2 linked regions of the Homo sapiens genome follow. The protein of the gene in region 2 purifies or fractionates together with the protein of the main gene of each other region. This does not show direct contact. Each region holds a gene or a part of one and is shown on either strand. Other genes may lie near its edges.

Region 1 (7,415 bases), on a different chromosome or scaffold from region 2:
GGGAGCAACTTCTCCTCCAGGAGAGACATGAAGGCCAGGGTGTCTGCCCCTTGCCGAGCTGACAGATCATAATCAGCATTGTACTTCTGTGGAGGAAATATCCATGGCGTGGACACTAGGGAGCTGCAAGGGCACTTCACCAGGGAGGAAGGAGTCCTGTCTGGTACCCCCCTCACTGGCCTCTGAGTGCAGTGGAGGTACAGCAAGGAACTTTTCCTGCCAAGGCCCCCTTGCCTGGGCCCAGCCAGTAGCCTGTTGCTGTTGGCGAAAAGCCTGGGCCTTGGAGCCTCCTGGCCGTGAAGGTCCAGCGCCCAATGCAGGGAAGGAAGGAAGGCTCCGCCGCAAACTAGGAGCAGCTCCCAGAATTTCCATGGAAAGCTGGAACAACGCCCGCTGACGGCAACTTTCTAACAGTAACTTCCCCGACCCAGACACCACAAAGCTAGCACAACGGAGCTCAGATGCAGGCTAGGACTCGGTCCATGCCTCAGGAACCAGAGAAAGCCATCCTCACACTCCCTGGATCCAGGGAACCCACGCCCAGGGCCCCCCAGCTTGTTCCCTCAGTGCCCAGCTCTTGGCTATTTCTTTCACTTCATTCCATCGCTCAGACACCATTACCACATACACATTCCACCCATACCCCCAGGTCTCAGCCTGCCCTACCTTCCCAGGCTCCAGTCCCTGTTCCTCAGCATCCCCCTCCACATCCTGAGTAAGCTTTGTCCCCAGATAACCTCTTCAGCATGATCCTTAAATCTCCCTAAGCCTCAGTTTCTCCCCTGTGGAATGGGGGTAAGAATCTCTTTCTCTGAATGCCCCTGTGTTAGGAAATAATTTAGAATACTTTGGAAACTGGAAAAGCTCTGTTCACACCTAAGCAATCAGGGCAGTGGCCTCGGCTCTGCCAGGAACTTTGGCTTTTATCTGGATCCTCTCTTTCCAGGCCTCTCAATTAATTCCCCAGGTCCTCAACCTTTGGGAAGTTAGAAATGAGGAAGAGTGTCCTACTTCTGACACTGTTCCCTCTTGGAACCTGACCGTCAATGCTAGAAGAACCCTTGGAAAACATGCTGGCCCAGCCCTCTAGTTTTACAAATAAGGGAGTGCACAGCCCTGAGAGGTTACATGGCCTGCCCGAGATCACATAGTCAATGGCAGAGTAAAGAGCATAGCCTAGGCCTCCCCACTCCTCTAGTAATGCTCTTTCATCTTCTCCAACCTGGCTCTAAGCCTTGTCCATCCTGAGCCCCATATCTAGCCCAACCTAGTCCCTGAAAACAGGAAGTGGCCCTTAGAAATCTCTCTCCAGTCCCACCATCAGAGGCCAACTGCTGTCTTCCACTCTCCTTCAGCCTGTGCTCCTCTCCCTCCCTGCCTCACAGTGCCCTAAGTTTCATCTCTTGCCGACTGCTTTAATACATCACAGTGACATTGTGTGTGTCTCTGCCACAAGACTGTTGCTCCTTGATGCTCTGGGTCACCTGCATCTAGCATGGCATATATCTGGTGCTCAATAAATGTGTATTGTATAGAATTGACTGAACTTCTCTCACTGGCAGCCCCCTCTATCCAAGTCACCTACCTCTTTTCGAAGGTGGGTGATGATCTTGTGTGGAACTGAGATGACCTCTCCATGACTGGTCCGAAGGGCAGGCAGAGTTCCTGATATTGAGAGGGAAGTATACCAACCAGACCCTTAGCTGCCTAGTCATACATAGTTGCAACACATTCCTGCCTATTTCTTGCTTCTCCCCTTGTACACACCCTTCCTTACCCCCAAGGGATACTGGGTACCTGAAGGGCTCTGCCAGGGGTTGCTGATCTTGTGTACCTTCAGTGGAGCACCAGTAAATCTGGCATAGGTCTGCAGGGAAGGAAGCAGAAGTCAGAGAGGCAGAGCCATGTCCCCCACAGTGGTATCAAGAAGAGAAATAACATTTATTGAATACCTTATGTGCCATTCCCTATACTTAGTATCTTAGTCTCGAAAAAAAAGGGGGAGTCACTACCATTTCTATTTTACAAATGGACAACACAGGGCTCAGAGAGATTCCGGACATGTCTGTGATTACAGGACAGCCAGGAAAATCCTTTCCTCTATCTCCTCTCTTGCCATCTACCTGGTGAACATCTATCCTCAGAAGCTTTTCCTAACCAGTATCCCTCTTCTTGGAAGCACTGATAATGCCCTTCTCTTTGGCAGTATCTGTGGTCTGTTCCTACTTTAACTTATATGTGAATATTTTATTATATTTATTTGCTTACCTATCTGCCTTTCTGTAAACTCGAAGGGAGGAACCAAATTTTATTCATCTTTGCCTGGCAATGTTTAATATTTGGAAGAAATCTAATAGATCCTCTTTAAAGCAAGGAGTCAATGAATAAATGAAGCAAAGGAAGTCTGATTGCTAAGCTCTTTATACAAAGCCTGGCTGTGAGTCGTTTGGTCTAACAAACAATAGCCTCAGTAAATGCTGTTAAGTGAGGAGGAAGAGGAGAAGGGGGCTGAGGAGAAGGCAGGAATTCCAAGCTAGAGTAGGTCCCTGAGACAGTCCAGCCTAGTAAACCTCCGAATGGAGAAAAAAAATGCCCAAAGAGAAAGGATCTCCGCAAGGTCACACAGCCAGTGAATGGATGAGCAAGGACTAGAACCCATCACCTGAACTCCCAACCAGGCGTCTTTTCATTGCTGCATTAAGCCTAGAAAACTACAGCATAGGGCACTGAGGCCATATCGGCCACGTACGCTCTTTGACTGCCTCAGTTTCCCCCACTGCGCCCGTGCTGAGTAGCCCTGGCAAGGTTTGGATGCTTGGCTAGTTCGGCCCCCTCCCCAGTCATCAGGGCACAGCAGAGGGCGCCGGCGCCACCCCTCACCAGCACGGCCAGGCTGTCCAGGTCCACTGACGGCAGCCCCCAGCCCCCTGACCAGCAGAACAGCTCCATGGGCGCCGCCATCTTGCCCACCCTCTGTCCCGGAAACACTTCCTTGTGTGCTTCTGCCCTCCCCTGCCTGGGCCCGCCCCCCGCCACCGCCCCTCCGATCGTTGCGGTCAGGGGGCCTGGGGAGATCCCCGGGGAGGCGAGGCTTCTTCTGGCCCGACTGGCAGCTGAACTGCGGGGGACTGGGCCGCGGGCCTCGGGGGAGGGCGGCCGCCGGCCCATCCAGAGGTGGCCCACGTAGCGGGACAGCGCTGTCGGCCCGGCGCGCCTCGGAGAGTCACGGCGCCTCGTCCAAGTGGAGCCCCGAACCCCTGAAGGCGCGGCAGGCTCTGGAGAGCGGGGTCTTGTGCGCCTGGGCCAGGTCTGGGGGCTCTTGCCAAACTGCACGTGGCCTGTACTGCTCCAGGGCCCCTTGGGGCTCGTCCCCGAGCGGGGACTGCGGGGGGGTCCCCCGAGCAGCATGTTTTCCACAGCGCGTTATGTTTGGAGCGGGCCCTGCGCCGCCTGTCGCCATGGAAACAAAACAGGGGCGGTGGCGGCGGCCGGAGCGGAGGCCGGGCTGGGGCTTGGGTGGGGGAGGGGAAGAGAGGCTCGCAGGCTGTCGCTTAGGTGACGGGAACTCAGGCGCCCCTCTGCTTCATCCGGGTCACGGCCCGTCCGCTAGTACCCACAGTGTTCCACAGTCTGGTCCTTGGCTCCTCGCCTGTACCCCTGGTCTTCTGCGCCTGTCCCTGGTGTCCCTTTCCTCTTTTTTGGTTTCTTCACTCTGACCTCACTGACCACTGCTTTAGATTCTCCCTTCAGTTCCCGTCAGACGCTTCCAGACTCCCAAGCTTTCCTACGAATGAGGGAAAATGGAGAAACAGGCACTTGTCAGGGGACCCCCCACCCTAATAAAGAGCACTTGCTCCGCCAGAACAGCAAAATTCATGCCATGTGGGCATCCCTGGGCACTATAGCAAGCTAGTTGCGGCCACTCCCTTGGCATCCTTTCCTGCCAGCTGTGGAATAATGCCCACTGTCTAGCACTGCCCCTGCCAGGGGTTCTTGCCTTCCACAATCGTGGCTTCCAGAAAACAGTGGCATTCGGTAGCGCTGTGTGCCGAGACCCCCAACAATGATGACTGCGGAGAGGGAGGCACCTGGGGGAGGATCATTAGGGAGAGGTAGAAAGCAGGGAGGCCTCCAGGATTCTTTCCCAGTGCCCCTGGTTCCCAGAGCTGATGATGCCTCCAGGGTGATTGGCAGCTCTTTGTTTCAGCCCCCCCTCACCCGCCTGCTGGCCCCCCCTCCAATTCTGTCCCTCCGCCCCCCGGCTCCTGCTCTCTCCGCCTAGCCTTTTCCCCTCCCAGCTGCCTGCCTGCCAGGGGTAGTGAGCCGGCTGAGAGGCATGGAGACGCAGGAACTTCGGGGGGCCCTGGCTCTTCTCCTCCTTTGCTTTTTCACATCTGCCAGTCAGGATCTGCAGGGTAAGCCTGTCTCCATCCTCTTAGACCGCTCTCTGCTTCTTCCCCATTTGCCCTCAGCCCAAGTAGCAGAGAACATGTGGGCAAGGGGAGAGGGGAAGAGTCCAGAAATTGAGCCAGAGGAAAACTTAAGACTGCCTAGAGTTGGTGAAATTATGGCCTGGTGGAGAGGAGTGGGCACCGGAGAGTAGTGGGGGAGCTGGAACAGGACAGGGTCAGGCATGAGGCCAGGGCAGAGGACTCAGGAACTGGATGCTCAGGCTGCCTGGCTGGGGTGGTTCCTGAGCATCTGTAGGCACCCTAGGGTCTGGGAGAGCAGCCTGAAGGTGGGCGTACTGTAGGTCCCTGGGCTTCGTCCCCCTGGGCTCCTGGCTGCCCAAGGACAGGGCGGGGGTGGGGACCAAGAAGCCTGGGCTCTCCCGGAGGTCTGGTGGTGGGATGGGCCGATGGATGTGGGAGAGGTAGCTGGAGCAGATGACACAGGCATAGATTCTTTACTGGCTGGAGGGAAAACCACAGATTGGCCAGGACACAGGAGGCAGAGGAGCTGGGTCCTACATTCCCGTGGGAGATAGCCCAGATGGTGGGAGGGTTAGAGTCCTCAGTGGGCAGCTGTTCTTATCCAGAGCGAGTGTGCTGCGCCCCTAGGATGGGAGGAGGGGAACTAGGGTGTGGAACGAGCCAAACCCAGGAGTGGAAAGAGAAGCTGCCTTCCATTTCTACGTTGTGGACACCAGGTGCCACTCCTGTGGGGGATCAGCACAGCATCTCCTTTGCGCCACCTGGTGGGGGCATCTCAAATTTGTGGGGTGCTGTTTCTGTGTTTCCAAGTGAGTCTCAAACCTGCAGGTTCCTGGAAGGTAGTAATAGGCAATAATGGGGAAAGGAAGGCACAGTGCCTCTGTCCTCTGAGAGCAACAAGGGTTGAGGTTTTTTTTTGTTTTCGTTTTGTCTTTTTGAGATGGAGTTTCACTCTTGTTGCCCAGGCTGGAGTGCAATGGCGCGATCTCGGCTCACTGCAACCTCCACCTCTCAGGTTCAAGCGAGTCTCCTGCCTCAGCCTCCTGAGTAGCTGGGATTACAGGTGCCCGCCACCACGCCCGGCTAGGTGGTTTTTTTTTCTTTTTTGTTGTTGTTTTTGTATTTTTAGTAGACACGGGGTTTCACCGTGTTGGCCAGGCTGGTCTCGAACTCCTGACCTTAGGCGATCCACCTGCCTCAACCTCCCAAGGTGTTGGGATTACAGGTGCGAGCCACCATGCCCAGCCAAGGGTTGAATTTTGAGGTGACTAACGCTGCCTGGTGGTGGGGGTAGGGGGTGATGTGGGCTCGGGGGAGGGCATACCTTAGCATTTGATCCCATTCTCTAACCTTGATAACCCCTGCCTGACCAGTAATTGACCTGCTGACTGTGGGCGAGTCTCGGCAGATGGTAGCTGTGGCAGAGAAGATCCGGACAGCCTTGCTCACTGCTGGGGACATCTACCTCTTATCCACCTTCCGCCTGCCCCCCAAGCAGGGTGGTGTCCTCTTTGGCCTCTATTCTCGCCAAGACAACACTCGATGGCTGGAGGCCTCTGTTGTAGGCAAGATCAACAAAGGTGACTGGTGGGCATCTCCTTTCTTGCAATGGTGACCTCCTTAAGCACTCTCCCTCATCCCTACTTCCCAAGTGCTTCCTCATTCTCCTTGGCCTCCACTAGGGACCAAGGTCCCATCAGGCTGTGCCCAGACATCAGGGGCACCTGGTATGGGGTGCTTATAAGGTGCTTTAGGAGCCCATGTACCAAACAATAGGGTGAGGCTTGAGTCCTGATATTTATAGGGATGGGAGGTTGTACTTGGGGATGCCTGGAAGGAGGGTGAGGCATGTCTCTGTGCCTCAGCGGTGATACAGAAAGGTCTTTCAGATCCCTGGAACAGGTCAGTGGCCACAAAACCAGCTGTCACCCTAGGAGAGGATACAGTCATCTGATACCAATGAAGACTAAGAAAGTATTTGTCTCTAAACCAATTATTTTTTTAAATGGAGTCTTGCTTTGTCACCTAGGCTGGAGTGCAGTGGTACAATCTCAGCTCACTGCAACCTCTGCCTCCTGGGTTCAAGCAATTCTCCTATCTCAGCCTCCTGAGTAGCTGGGACTACAGGTGCCCACCACCATGCCTGGCTAACTTTTGTATTTTTAGTAGAAACAGGGTTTCGCCATGTTGACCAGGCTGTTCTCGAACTTCTGACCTCAAGTGATCTGCCCACCTTGGCCTTCTAAAGTGCTGGGATTACAGGTGTGAGCCACCGTGCCTGGCCTCTAAAGCAATTTCAAAAACATTTATTGTGTACCTATTAAATACAAGGTGTTGAGAGCCACATAGTAGAATTAGGGATAGGGGCCCTAGAGATGTGGTATCTAGCAGAGTTGATCCAAGGCTCAGCTGGGAGGCAGGGGGTGGGGGATAGCGCCCATACTGATCTCCCCTCCTGGGCAGTACTGGTGCGATACCAGCGGGAGGATGGCAAAGTCCACGCCGTGAACCTACAGCAAGCGGGCCTGGCTGATGGGCGCACACACACAGTTCTCCTGCGACTCCGAGGTCCCTCCAGACCCAGCCCTGCCCTACATCTCTACGTGGACTGCAAACTGGGTGACCAACATGCAGGCCTTCCAGCACTGGCCCCCATTCCTCCAGCGGAGGTCGATGGGCTGGAGATTAGGACTGGACAGAAGGCGTATTTGAGGATGCAGGTGAGCCGGGAGGAGCCTCTGAGTTCTGTGGAAATAGAGTTTGCACCAGCTGGGGAAGGGGTTGGTAGACCTTCCCACCTTACTCTGCTGCTATCCCCCCAGGGCTTTGTGGAATCTATGAAAATTATTCTGGGTGGGTCCATGGCCCGGGTAGGAGCCCTGAGTGAGTGTCCATTCCAAGGGGACGAGTCCATCCACAGTGCAGGTAACACAGAGACTTGTTTGCTGACATTGGACCACGGATCCTGTGGCCTTTGGTGAC
Region 2 (8,036 bases):
ATCAAATCATAACAACAAGCATTACTGAACATCTACTATGCTTGAGGTATCTAATCTGTAAGTTGTGACAATTTATTTTTAAGACACAATTTGCTGTGGTGATTTGATATGTCAAGAAGCAGCTTTTGTAAAGCTGCCCCAGAAGGATGGATCCCAGTTGCACAAGATGTCAAAGGCTGTGTGAACATGGAGATAACTGGCTCTATGTGGATGTCTCTCATTTCCACATTGTTCAGATCCTCTGCCAGAGCAACATATTGAGAGTCTTGACTTTTCATTGCAAAATATTCGTGGTAACTTCATGCAGAAATAAGATGTGTTTATTTTTCATTGTTGTCCTCAATAAGGGGTGGTTGCTTAGGGTAGACAAAATTAGTAATCAACAGAGTTACCGGCTTCTATCACTGTTGTTCTCACAGATCTGCTTTGTGCCACATGCTAAGTGGAGACGTGATTTACGTGGCATATTATCCACGGCATCAACTCCCTGCTATGCACGTCAAAAGCGTCTATGGCAAGCCATTGGACTGTACCTCTTACTTCTTTCCCTTACTCCATCTCTCTCATACATACATCTCCCTGCATTCTTGTTTCTGCTTAAGAGACGAGGTACAGTGATATATGGAAATGTCTGTGTGTGCATAATGGCGGAGCTGTTATCCTGAAGCTACATGGTGCCAAGCCTTGGCTCATGCACAAATATCACTTTTAGGGCTTCCACTCTGTTCAAAATTATAACCCATCTCCCTATGGACAACACTCTATGGCATACATGTAATCTCATGAATCATTAAATAATATAATTATTAAATTCTATACTTATCTATTTTGTCATCTAGTAATCAGGGGTTATTTTCAGTCTCCCAACATGGAGACAATGTTTTAACTATTTTGCCATTCTAACAAATGTAAATATCCTATGTACAGATTAATTTACTTGGCTAAGTTTTTGTTTTTCTTGAAAATTTAGGATATCAGATAATGTAATTTATTGACAAGAATGAATCCACCAGCAGTATGGGTTATAAGCTTGGGTATATGAAAAAATCTGCTAACTCCTTTCCCTTCCTCCTTCCTGCTTTTGTCAATCTTCTACTGCAATTAGTAATATTATCCTTATTTTGAACAACTAAAAATCAGTTATCCTTTGATAATCTTAGAAATAGTTTTTTCTTCAACATTAGCATTTGCAAGGCCATTGTGTTTCAAAACCAAGAAGGCAACTGGCATTCATTGGCTTGCCTTGGTTCCTTCTGCCTTGCATTTTACTTTCTTAGATTGCTGAGTTTCTTTTATCATCAGGTTGTGTGTGTGTGTGTGTGTGTGTGTGTGTGTGTGTGTGTGAGTGTATGTAAGCAAGGGCTATAGGAACTTCTTTTCATCTTTTGGGTTATTTCTGTTAGATGCAACATATATAATTCTAGGCCTAACTCATTTTTCAAACTAGGATCTGTAAATGCTTCAGCAGCAGCAATTCGGTGACTACATTCAGTCTCTCTGAGAATGTTATTTAGGGCAAAGTATGTTCCTTGGGGGTAGTGATAGCATTTTGACAGAGCTGAGCCATGCATTTTGGGAATTAGTAGGAAGGAGGTGAAGTATGGCCAAAGTGTGGAGGGCCTTGATTGCTAAACATGGGGGAAAAGGGGGACAGGTGGGAGCTCCTGGGTGCTTTTTTAGAAGCAGTGGCACTTGACAGATGGAAGCAAAGTCCCGGATATGTTATGGGGAAGAAGCTCTGAAGATAGGGAGATCAATTAAGAAATTAAGAAATTTCTGAAAATTTAGGGGTGGAATGACCCCATCCCACCTTCCATGCCACAGGCCATCCAGAGCCACCAAGCATCAGCTACACAGGTTAATGACATCCGAAACAGCCCAGCTGTTTGATACCTGTTATGTTACTTTTCAGTTGTGTTTTATATTACATTGCTCTATGAAACCGTTTCAGTACAATCTTTTTCAAAGTGAGAGAAAGGGAATAAAACGTTAATAGGAAGAATACTTTATAGTGCCTTCTTCTTCTTCTTGTAACATTATTACAGTCTTATCAGTAATTCTAGCTTGCCTCAGATATTAATACAATCTTTAAATAGTCTACTTCCACTTATGCTGACTCTGATATGACTCAAAGCAATGTTGTCTGTCTGGAGACACCTTAGAACTGAGCATAAAAGCAACTAAGAGTGGATGATGAGAAATTTCATAGTGGGTACAATGTATATTATTTTTGTGATGGATACCCTAAAAGCCTTGACTTCACCACTATGCAATATATACATGTAACAAAACTACACTTGCACCCCATAAATTTATACAAATTAAAAAAGAAAAGCAATTAATATAATTGTTAAACACAAAAATAGGTGTGATTCAAAACTCATCTTTCTTTGAAGAGCATATTAGATACTTTCAACTATTTATTCTTCTTTCAACCTAATCCTTCTAATAGGGAAATAAAGAAGGCTCACACATCCCTTTAACTGAATATTCTCCAATTGTATGCATTATTTTCATAGCTACATAAATGTAATGGTAAAGTGAGATGGACAGCTGCTACCTTGCCCTGCAATACAGAGGTAGTGAACTTGATATGGTTAGAGGAATCTATAGGTTTAATATGTGACAGACTCCCACAGAATTTTACTATGGGAGGCAGCTATGGGGGAAAGGGATGGGGGCCTGTGACTCACATTGCTTGGAAGGATCTCTTGAGTATCCTGCTTAGAAGTCAGAAGAATAGCAACATGTATGATCTCATGACCTAGAGAAGAGGATGACAGAAAGATGTGGCGATTGCTCCTAAATACTGTGAGCCTTTTTAGCACACTCCAGTGCTTTTTTCTCTTTTCCTCTGGAAAAAGATTGAAATAACTAAAGAGTATTTGTTTTTTTAGCCTAAAGGTTTACTTTCTAAAATTAATGATAGTTAAATGACTCATTACGAGTTTTGGAAAAACAGGAATTACACAAATGTACTCCTACCTATGATGTAAAAGTACCAGTCAAACTGTCCACATTATTTAGAACTACAGTAAGGTATACAAAGTATTGGATTCCCAGGAGGGGAGAACAATATGGTCAAATAAGAATATGTTAATTTTTATTCATTGCTAGGTGAATGTAAAGCAAAGTTTTATTTGCATTTTTACCAAATCTGGAGACATTCCAGATGGTCTGACTTAAAACGTTGCCATGGAATAGAAATGATGTTTAGTCTGGTGATTGGCAGTAGCACCGCAAAGAGATAAGCAGGTATCCTTCCCAGCAGTTGTGGATATTGATTGGCTAAGAAGCTGCTTTGCACATGGCAAGTCTACATAGTGTGCTTCAGGGTGAACAGCAGCAGGGAGTTATAAATGCAGAGATGGATAATTATTTTCTTGAGCCATGATGGGTTGGTTCACTAGTTCATAAGTTTGAATAATCAATGTTTGATACTCCACACTCTGATGGCTGAAGAGTCAAAATTTGAATTTTCCAATTTATCATTAAGGAGAAATGTCAGGAGAAAGTCAAGTGGTTGTGTGCACATAGTATATCATAAAGAGAAAACTTTTTAAAAGAAAAGATTAAAGTTATGTAGCATATGCTAAACATTTTAAATCAATTACACATTTTCAATTTTGCATCATAGTTTAGTTCTAAATTCCTATTTTAAGCTCTAATAGAAAACACATGTATTTATGCTATCCTGTGGAAAGAGATGGTAATTTTTTGATTGTTTGTTCTCTAATCTCTTCAATTTTGGAAACAGTGTACTGGTGTAATTTTGGGAAGTTTTTATTTGCAATGTCAAAATTGTAACCATTGTTTTCATCTATATTATCAGACCACTGATTTTTCTGCTAGGGTAATATAATTTAACCACAGCTTAAGTGTACTTATTGGAAACTGAGAGATTACTGTTTTACTTAAAATGTGTTGTATCTTCAATTGACAAAACTTGCCATTTAAAGTAATATTTCAGAATATTACCTCTTAGAATAGTTGCTTTCTATGCATAATACATAGAAGGAAAAAACAAGGCTGAGGAAAATACTCTTCTTGGGTTTAGAATAAACACATTTCATAAAATCTGGCATAGATCAGGCCATTTCATTTGAATTTTAGTATATCTGAATTCTTGCAGCAATTTTTCCCTCCCAACAACTAGACCAAATATGGAATATGTAATTCCTTCGGCTTTAGTTTGTTTTGGGTCTAAGTAGTCTCTGATATAGTTTGGATGTTTGTCCCCTCCAAATCTCATGTTGAAATGTAATCCCCAATGTTGGAGGTAGGAACTGGTGGGAGGTGTCTGGCTCATGGGGGCAGATCTCCCATGAATGGCTTGGTGCTGTCCTTGCATTAGTGAGTGATTCTCGAGACATCTGGTGGTTTGCAAGTGTGGTGCCTTGCCCCCTTCTCTCTTGCTCCTGCTCTTGCCATGTTACGTGCCTGCACCCCTTCTCCCTCTGCCATATTTGGAAGCTTCCTGAGGCCCTCACCAGAAGCAGATGCTGGAGCCATGCATGTACAGCCTACAGAGCTGTGAGCCAATCAAATCTCTTTTCTTTATAAATTACCCAGCCTTTTTTTTTTTTTTTTAATAGCAATGTAGAAATGGCCTAATACAGTCTGTAAGCAAGGTTAGTTATCTTCCTCTCACACTGAGGCACTGACTTTGTTGTGTTTCTTTTTGGTTCCTTACTGCCTAGCTCAGGGGTGGGCACACAGTGGGTGCTCAATAAATGCAGACTGAAGAAATGAAGGAGACCACAGTAAAGCAGGCAAATTTTAAGTGGTATTAGTTAGTAATGCTGCTCAGCAAGGTCAACAGTGGCCTGCTATCATGTGGACCCCATTATCTCTAAGTCACCCATATCACTGAGAAAAGCCAGGATGCCCTTTGGCTTTAATCATTAATCTAGACAGTCAAAATAAAATAAATACAATTCATTTCAAGCTGGACTGTAGATATCTGGCTTCTGAACAGCATCATATTCAACGGTAACTAAACTCAAGGATATGTTTGTTTCAAGTATTTTCTGGGCCTAGTAGCTCTCACTCTGGAAATTGCATTTCATAAAAATCCAGGGATCTTGCCAAGACAGCCTATCCAACCAGCAAGCCCAGGGGTGGCATGAGAATCCAAGTCATGAAACACCATGATTTTGAACCATCATCCCTGAAATACTATTTTGTTACAATTAAGGTAGAAACTAAGTGTAACATAAGACAGATAATAAAATTTGTAAATCTTAAAACTAGTAGTTAGAAGACAGCAGAAATAGCTCTCAGTAAAAACACAGATAAAATTCCAAAGGTCAGAAAAGTCTGCAGCAACTCTCCACGTGGAATCAGAGCATGGGTTTAAATTTGCAAATACATTTGTGGTTACTTCCTACCTTAAATACATTGATAGGGAGATCAATGACCACATAGATAAGGTCTCCAAGGGCAAGACTGGCTATCAGCGCGTTGGGGCCATTCCTCATACATTTGTTCTGGTAAATGATCCTGAGCAGAGTTGCATTCCCCACCATTCCCACGATGAAAATAGTACAAGATATCACAGTGTTAATGTATTTGAAAGCTGAAGTAATTTTAGTCTGCTGTGGGCAATAGTTGTGCATTGAGCCATTGCTGGGTAGGACCAAATTAGTGGGTTGATGAGTGGTAACCAGGAAGCTGAGCTCTGTGCCACGAAAAGTGGTGAAATCATCCACATGATTGCTTAGATTTGTGCTGTATCTCTCAGGATTATCACTGATTACACATCCAACCAGTGCCAGCCAAAAGGATGCCCTGAGGCAAAGGGTTTCCATCTTGAGGCAAATTTGAGGAAATATCTCTTATTGCACTTGTGCTGCTTTTACACCTTCACTTTTTTTTCACCTGAAACAAAAGGAAAAATAATTTTTGTTCCAAAACCCAGTTGCCAAAAAGATCATAGTCAATGATTATTTATTGATTCAATTAAAATGCAGGATATATTTGGTGATTAGATAAGATATATGTATATCAGGTTACCCTATGACAGAGCAAAACCAGAAAAAAACTGAAGCTCTATTAGGGCAAGCTCTATCTCCTCTATGTCAGTCTCCATCTCCATCTCCATCATCTCCATCATCTCTGTCATCTCCGTCTCTGTCTCTGTCTCCATTTCCGTCTCTATAGCTATCTATCTCTGTCTCTATTTCCATCTCTAGCTCTATCTCCATCTCCCTATCTCTCTAGCTTTGTCTCTCTCACTCATCTCTATACATAGCTATACTTATATCTACATCATAATATGGATGAGGCTATGTCAGTTTTTCCTTTAAGTAGTAGTTACTTCTTTCTCTACATTCAGGCTGATAAGAACCTGAATTACAAAAATCTTCAAGAGTTGAGATACAAACATATTTTTTAATGAAAGAGAAAAGGCATTATATGCTGAGTAAAGGGTACAGGGTATTGAGGCATAAAATAAAATTATCGAATGTAAAAATTGAATCTTCTAAAATGTGTGCTGTCTTGCATATGATAAATAATGAACATAGGGATGAAGTGCAGCACAGGTAGCCATCTAAAGTGTTATGAAATGTTAATGAGAACTCTGGTTAACACCATTAACACATCTAACAATTTTAGTTTCAATTAAGAATGAAATAATTGATAAAAACATTTGTTTTGAAAACCTTGATGATTAATGTGTAAAATCTAAATTTTTTACAGGAGTTTTTTTGCTTTTTCATTTCTCAGAAATTATCATCACAATACGGTATTTGCCGATGAATGAAATGGGAGTAATGAACTTTTCCAGGCTAGTCATAGTATTTTGGTTTCCAAGGGACACCTGTCCCCATGCTATCTTTTAACCATCCTATATAGCTACATTTATTTTATGCCAGTCACTGTACTCAGTACTATATGTGCATGATGCCCTGTAATCCATACAATGGTCCTGTGGGGTAGATCCACGGTTCAATTTTGAAGATAGGGAAACAGAGGCCCAGGAGGGTGAAGCAGCTTGTCAAGGCCACAGGTGATGGGTGGCAACACTGCGATTCTAAGGCAGGTCAGTCCAACTCTGAGCCGGAGCTGTTAACCACTAAACCATCCTGTCTCTCATTCTTGTGCTTTATTTGTATGTAAAATATTTTAAAGAAGTCTCCAGAGTTTAGATGAAGCAATAGACTCAGGAGGGTGGTTAGACATTTTCAAAGACCATCTGGTGTGGTTTATTTATTTATTTATTTATTTTTAAGTCACTTGCAGAGAGCAAGTGGTCCTTCCTGTCCAGGAAGTCTAGGAGACCTTAATAAGGAATAATCAAAGATAATTAAAAATAGCTCATCCTATTTCAATATTTTATATATTTCCTTTTCTGTAGGCTTTTATGAATCTTCAAATGAAGACATAATCTGATTTATGCGGTGGTGTGTGTACGTGTCTGTGATGTATATACCCAGGTCATAATTTAATCTTAAAAAAATTGAGTCCTGGTTGGGTGTGGTGGCTCATGTCTATAATCTCAGCACTTTGGGAGGCCAAAGCAGGAGGATCACTTGAGCCCAGGAGTTTGAAACTAGCCTGGGCAACTTAGTGAGACCCTGTCTTTACAAAACATAAAAAAGATTAGACAGGCATGGTGGCGTGTGCCTGTAGTCTCAGCTACTTGGGAGGCTGAGATGGGAGAATCACTTGAGTCCAGGAGGTTAAGGCTGCAGGGAGCTATGATCGAGTCACTGCACTCCATCCTGAGCAGCAGAGTGAGACCCTGTCTCAAAAAAAAAAAAATTAAATAAATAAAAAGTAAAAAATAAAATTGAATCCTTTTTCTGAGTGTATTCAAGGTTGATGTTAACCACTTTTAGGAATTTTGACAATTATCTTGGGAAATCAGTAAAGCTTAGGTTTGGCCAATACGTGGATAAAATAAGATTTATTCAAGTTGCATAGAAAGTATAGGGTATATATAAAGTGCGAGTATTGGATACTTTTGCCTTCCCCAGAGATTTCCCCCTGAACTCTGAAATAATAATAGTATTTACATATAGTAACTTATT

The links. Proteins that work in one complex are often made in the same cells at the same time.
Region 1: the proteins of EDNRA (region 2) and MTX1 purify together in Homo sapiens (affinity purification with mass spectrometry; 3 studies listed by BioGRID and IntAct, with this or other methods). This does not show direct contact.

The regions. Positions count from the first base shown.
Region 1 is NC_000001.11:155,204,798-155,212,212, reverse strand, and holds the start of MTX1 (metaxin-1), read right to left. Parts: upstream 3,519-7,415; 5' UTR 3,409-3,518; coding exon 2,881-3,408; intron 1,868-2,880; coding exon 1,798-1,867; intron 1,666-1,797; coding exon 1,586-1,665; intron 87-1,585; coding exon 1-86. Other genes in the region: THBS3 (thrombospondin-3), read left to right, coding at 4,993-5,242, 5,807-6,013, 6,897-7,153, 7,256-7,358. UniProt on the Homo sapiens protein: Involved in transport of proteins into the mitochondrion. Essential for embryonic development.
Region 2 is NC_000004.12:147,483,456-147,491,491, reverse strand, and holds part of EDNRA (endothelin-1 receptor isoform a precursor), read right to left. Parts: intron 5,881-8,036; 5' UTR 5,811-5,880; coding exon 5,391-5,810; intron 1-5,390. UniProt on the Homo sapiens protein: Receptor for endothelin-1. Mediates its action by association with G proteins that activate a phosphatidylinositol-calcium second messenger system. The rank order of binding affinities for ET-A is: ET1 > ET2 >> ET3.